Regions from separate parts of the Homo sapiens genome. Here region 1 is linked to region 2. The links come from fine-mapping of genetic effects on gene expression. Tissue or cell type: whole blood. Region 2 holds a variant in brackets; the other region holds the start of a gene. All regions are shown on one strand. Distances are from middle to middle.

Region 1 (2,663 bases), 27 kb before region 2:
TAGAGCTGGGTACTTGGCAATGGCTGCCCGATGGACGTGTTGACCGAAGGCTGTTGTAGGACGCTCTTGTCGGAGCTGTTGCTGACAGTGATAACAGTGCTGTCCATCTCCACTTCATTGCTTCTCTCCGGAGAGGAAGCACCTGTTTCTAGCTGGTTTGTCTGCGGACCACCCTCAGCGGGGGCTTCTGCAGCCTGCTCGGGTTGGGTGGGTTCAGCCTGGCTGTCCCGCGCCGCCCCAGGCCCAAACTGCTGCTCCACCGAGTCAGGCTCGGTGCCTATGGAGGAGCTGACGCCCGAGTCGAAGCTTTCACCTTTGGGCTCACTCTCGGTGCCCTCGGCCTGGTCTGTGTCTTCCGTGCACTCCTCGGATTCGTTGCGTTCCAGGATCTGCACCCTTTGCTGCCCGTAGTAGTCGTAATCGTCCTCCATCTCCTGCTTGATGTGGATGTTGCCCACTAGGGTCTGGATGCGCACAGGCCGGGGCTGCTTGCGGCAGTGCGTGGTCTCGGGGGTGGTGGACAGGTAGCGCTCCATCTGCTGCGAGCGCTCATGGATGCGTGTGATCCAGCTGGGGTCTTCCATGTGGTGGTCGCGGGGCAGGCCGAGCGCAGTCTCGTGGTGGCTGACCACTGCGCCGCTGTAAAAAGAGCGCTCGCCGCTGCCATTCTGCATGGAGCACGCGTAGAGTGCCGAGTAGATCCTGTCCACGCTGTGCTGTGGGTGGCTCTGCAGGTAGCCCGACTCCGTGTCGCTGCTCTGGCCTGACGTGCCTGACTCGGGAGTGCCCCGCGGCGTGTCCTGGCCCGAGTCCTGGATCCCCGGGAACACATCGCCCACGTTCTGTGACACGATGCGCGTGCACTCGTCGATGACTGTTTTGATCTGCAGGATGCTGGCGGCCGTGAGGATCTGCAGAGCTTCCGACTGCGAGACCCGTAGCACGCCGCTGTACATGAAGTCAATGAGCTTTTGCACTGACTGCACTGACACCACCGACGGGATCTCGATGTCGCTGTAGCCAAGCAGCAGTTTGTCCTGGAAGAAGGGGCTGCCGGCTGCCAGCACGCAGCGGTGTGCGCGCAGCATGCTCCCGTGGATGCGCACCGTTACGTCACAGAAGTGGCCACGGTTGCGCTGCTCGTTGAGGGTCTCGAGCACGGAATTGCTGAAGTTGTGAAGGTTGATGCTGTGAATGCGCTCGGTCATCCCCTTGCAACTGATGTCACCTGCAGCATGTCAACGCAGACACAAAACAGGGCATGGGTCAGATCTAGCTGGTTGCATTCCTAACACCTAGGTTTCAGGTGAGTAATGCTCATGGCTCCTAGAAGCACTGCCCTTACATACGCAAGTGGGGAGATGGACAGGCTGCGGCATACAAGCTGTAGGTACGATGACCTGAGGGAAAAGGACCTTGAATTTTGCTCCAATTCCGGCCTTTAGTGCCGCAGCCATTTTGGGTATCCATATTAACTCCCCAGAGCTTCGGCTGAGGTAGAGTGGCCTAATAACCAGATGATTTGTTTGCCTGCTATTCCTACAGCTTCAGCAAAGAACTGAAAGGCAAATGGAAGACTTGTTCTTATGGAACACTAAACCTCCACTTTATTTTTATTTATGTATTTATTTACTTTGCCTTCACTTTAGACAGGCCTAAGCCCAGATTCTTTGGGAAAGTTTACATTTCCCCCAACTTATCAAAGTCCCTTATTTTATTCATACACAGTGACCATATTCATAGTTAACAAATAAACCCCCTTCCTATTAAGTCATATGGCATATTATCAAAACCCACACCATGTATGCAAAAATTATTGGAAAATTCAACCCAGACTAAGATATCTACCAAACAGTCATGATCATGCTTTCCGGATGATGGATGGGCTACAGAAAGCAATCTGCTAGCTAAAGGGGCACTCCATGGCTGCTTTCTGTATCTACTCATTCTTCTTGTCATCTCTGACAACCTGTTTGAGCACTTTCTAGGGTGGTTGCATGTGATATGGAAGGTTTTCTGAATTTTCTGAGGCTTAATGAAGGAGGAATGTTAAAAAGGTCAGAGATGGCAGTTCTGACCCAGGAGACTACAGTACATTGGTGATCATATTTATTATGCAAACAGGGCACTTTCAAGAGTGAAAGAGAGCATTGTTAATAATTAGGCCAGGATAGCAGGAGTAAGCCAGAAGTGGGATATATGATCTCCTTGGGTAATAGGGTGCTTTATGTACTTGCCACAGGGAAGTATTAAACAGCTCCCAGGAGGAAGGCAACAGCTATGTGGAGGCTGCGGATAGCCTGACCCAGCGCCACCCTATAACGTAGGCTGTTATGGCAAGGGATACTATTGATAAGATTTGGATTCAGAATGAGAAAGAAAACAGGTGGCTACAGCAGTAGATCTTAGGGCTTTTCTATTTTTCTAGCTCATCTCTCAGATGGCTCTAGAGAATCCCCCTCCAAATAATTCTTCAATCAGATTCCCCATTCTTGCCTTTACAACTGAACAATCAGCTTGGGAAAGTGAAATAAGTGGGCTTTCAAAACCAAATGGCCCAAGCACTGATTGTTGGCCTGGACCCAAATCTCTCTGTCTTGTGAGAAGCCACCTGAGAGGTAACAGCCTGCAGATAGGAAGAAGGCCTACCTCCTCAAACTCTT
Region 2 (2,852 bases):
GAGCCAGGAATGCCGTCTTTGGGCTCAGAACAGAGAATTCCAATAAGAAATGCTCTCACAATGAGAGCAAATCCATAAACACCCCTCGGTACCCAAATGAGTTAACCACAAGCGAGTCTTCCATCTACCTGGGTGTCAATTTTCTCAGTTTTCTCATCTGTAAATTGGGAAGGATCATACTGACAGGATATGGGCATTAAATCATGACTAAGAATAATTTTGCTAAACACATGACAAATAAAAAGGTGCTATAAAAATTCAAGCACTTGTGAAAGCTTGGAACAACACACACTGGTGGAATGTTTCTGAAGTTAAAGAGACTAACAAGTCAAGGGCACTATTTTTAAATGCCCCAAATCTGTTAGTTCTAAATAGGAACTGAATATTTTACCTTAAAGAAATTAGGCTTTTAAATTAATCTATGGTAAGAATGACATTTGAAAGTAAAAAAAAAAAAATCCTCTTGAATGCAAGAAGAGCATCCAAAAATTTTAACAGCTTAAAATAAACCTTTTTCCTGTCTTCTCTCAAGCAATCTCCAAATGGACAGATTTCTGTGAATCTTTCCTAAAAACAATTTTCTTCTAAGTGTAGGCTCAAATCAGGACAAACTACAATCCAAATATATTTGGAGAAAAGTATAATCAATTTAAACAACAGGTTGGAACAGAGAAGACTTACACATCTTAATGGCAAAATCAAAGTGACTGTCTAAAAACAGCTGGAGATCAGGTTTCTCCTCCTGGTTTGTTTTTCCAACTGAGCTCACATCCACTGGCTTCCCCAGGGCCACCAAGGAGATGTATGGTGACACCATACTCACGCTGTTCCTGAAACTTACTTCATGCCAATGCTAAGGCCTGGCCAGAGGATGCTTATGATAAAGCACAATAAGTGAAGCCCAATGCTTTTTCTATTCACAAAACATTCATTTTTGCTGTAACAGAAGATTTCTAGCCTAAGGCAATTCTATGTAATCCATACCCATAAGGTGTGGCAGAAAGCTGGGTAATGAAGACCTGCATGTAGAAACTCCAGGCCCTTCACCACAGGAACGGGCTATTTTCCTGGTGGGAAGGGACAGTGTGCACATGCCTATGGGCACTGTGCCACTCTACTTTCCAATTCTTTCTGTCATTACTATTACA[C/T]TGAAGATTGCCAGGCAAGAAGGTCCAAGGATGTGACTATTAGGACGGTCCTCAGAACACAGTCCCTGCTTCTGCCCCCTGGTTTCTCTATAGAAGCCTCAACTTCGACTGTTCAAATCACATAGGCCACAGAGATTTGTCTCACGTTACTTCCCTTTTCATTTTCTAGTGACGGCTAGAATATGGTCTTAGCCCAACCTTAAATAGAACAAGCTCTCTTCACCCCAATCCTGCCGCCAGCTCATTTCCCTCTCTTTAGAGACTATCATGATGAAGCAAGTAGAGAATGGAATCTCCTGGACCATTGTCTCTTGCCTTCTTTGCAGAATTTTACATTTGTTCTGTCAGAAAAATAACAATAAAAGATTTAGAATCTCATTTCCTAATAATTTTTGTCTTTGTGGACAAAATTTTATTTTTGAAATAAAACTTTGCAGGTCTTATGTTACTCATTTTAAAGAAGAATATGCCAGTTATTTGCATGTTACCAGACATCCTTTATGGAGATCAGTTCAGAAGAGTTGTTGGGTATGTTAAGACTAAAAGGAATATTCTTTTGGATTCGACTCCAAAGTTATTTCATTCCTTTCCATTGTCAACACACATGTTTCTTTTTCTCTGAAGTATTGGGTTACATTTCAGAAAAAGAAAAAAATCTCCTAAACGTGATTTATCAACTTGCTTAAAATAGAATTAGAAGAAGTGACTCCCAGATTAGTGGGAAGATGGCAAAAATAAACAGCAAAGAAGTGATTTCAATAGCGACGATCTCATTAAGCTGCCCATTTCCAAATTTAGCCCTTAGGCAGTTTTTTTAATTAAAAAATATTTTTAACCTGGATTCTCATTGGCTGTGTGAAGTCTGGGTGGCTTCTGAATTCTTGGAAGCCATTCTCTTTTCTTCTGTAAATTTATGCTATCCTTTAACCACTTCAAAATAAATTAAAAACTGGAAAGACAGAAATTCAGCCAAGCTACATGAGACTCCAATAACTAATGCAAATCTGACTTGTGTTATGTAATTTCAAAATGGATGTTTCCTTGTGTCTAACTGGCCTTCTGAGGTCCACATTTGGTTGTTCAATTTAGTAATTGTGGAAGTGCCATTATCCAGATCAAGAATAAATGGATACCAGCAACAAAACTTCATTTTCTGGGTTAGTGTTATGAAAAGAACGTGTTTTATGTAATTAATCAGCCCTTTAAGGCCAAATGGCATGTCACCTGGCTTTTAAATACACTCTAGCTTTGCAAACTTATAGATATTGGCTGAATGAAAATGGTGGCACATTACTTTTGGCTGCTTTAGAAGACCAAATGCAAAGAGCTCGCTCTGAAAGTAGAAAAGCCAGAACCCAGGGTAGAAGCACTACTCCAAGCACTGCAAAGACACCATCACCTTAGTGGTGTACTCACAATCAGATGACCCGGTGTGAGCGTGAGAGTTTGTCAGTGAATGTGTTGAGTGGATGAGGGCTGGGTCTGGAGACAAAACAGCTTCAAAGTTCAGGCAGGGAAGGCCCGGCTTGGCGCTGGATCCACCCGGCTGAGTAATCTCATTCTCCTCAGATGCCTTCTGGTTTTCAGCTGTCTTGGGTTTCTTCCTGAAAATAAACAAAGGGCCCTTTGAAGGAACTGACTGCATATTTGGGAAAAGGCATTTTTAGAATCTGTTAAAGATAACTTGATTTTTTTTTTCTGAAG

The links. PIP is the estimated chance that this variant, and not a neighbour inherited with it, causes the effect.
Region 1: it holds the start of ZBTB20-AS1, and the variant in region 2 is fine-mapped to the expression of ZBTB20-AS1 in whole blood (TOPMed, PIP above 0.99).

What each region holds. Positions count from the first base shown.
Region 1 is chr3:114,350,651-114,353,313 of GRCh38, forward strand. ZBTB20-AS1 (ZBTB20 antisense RNA 1) reads left to right here and starts at 1,161. Exons shown (of 9, transcript NR_038993.1): 1 at 1,161-1,306. It overlaps ZBTB20 (zinc finger and BTB domain containing 20), which reads right to left. Exons shown (of 12, transcript NM_001348800.3): 11 at 1-1,228.
Region 2 is chr3:114,377,653-114,380,504 of GRCh38, forward strand. It overlaps ZBTB20 (zinc finger and BTB domain containing 20), which reads right to left. Exons shown (of 12, transcript NM_001348800.3): 10 at 2,565-2,752. All of the region lies in intron 7 of ZBTB20-AS1 (ZBTB20 antisense RNA 1), which reads left to right. Among named protein-coding and RNA genes, the nearest start is that of ZBTB20-AS1, 27 kb to the left of the region's middle. The variant C/T (reference allele first, on the strand shown) is at 1,149.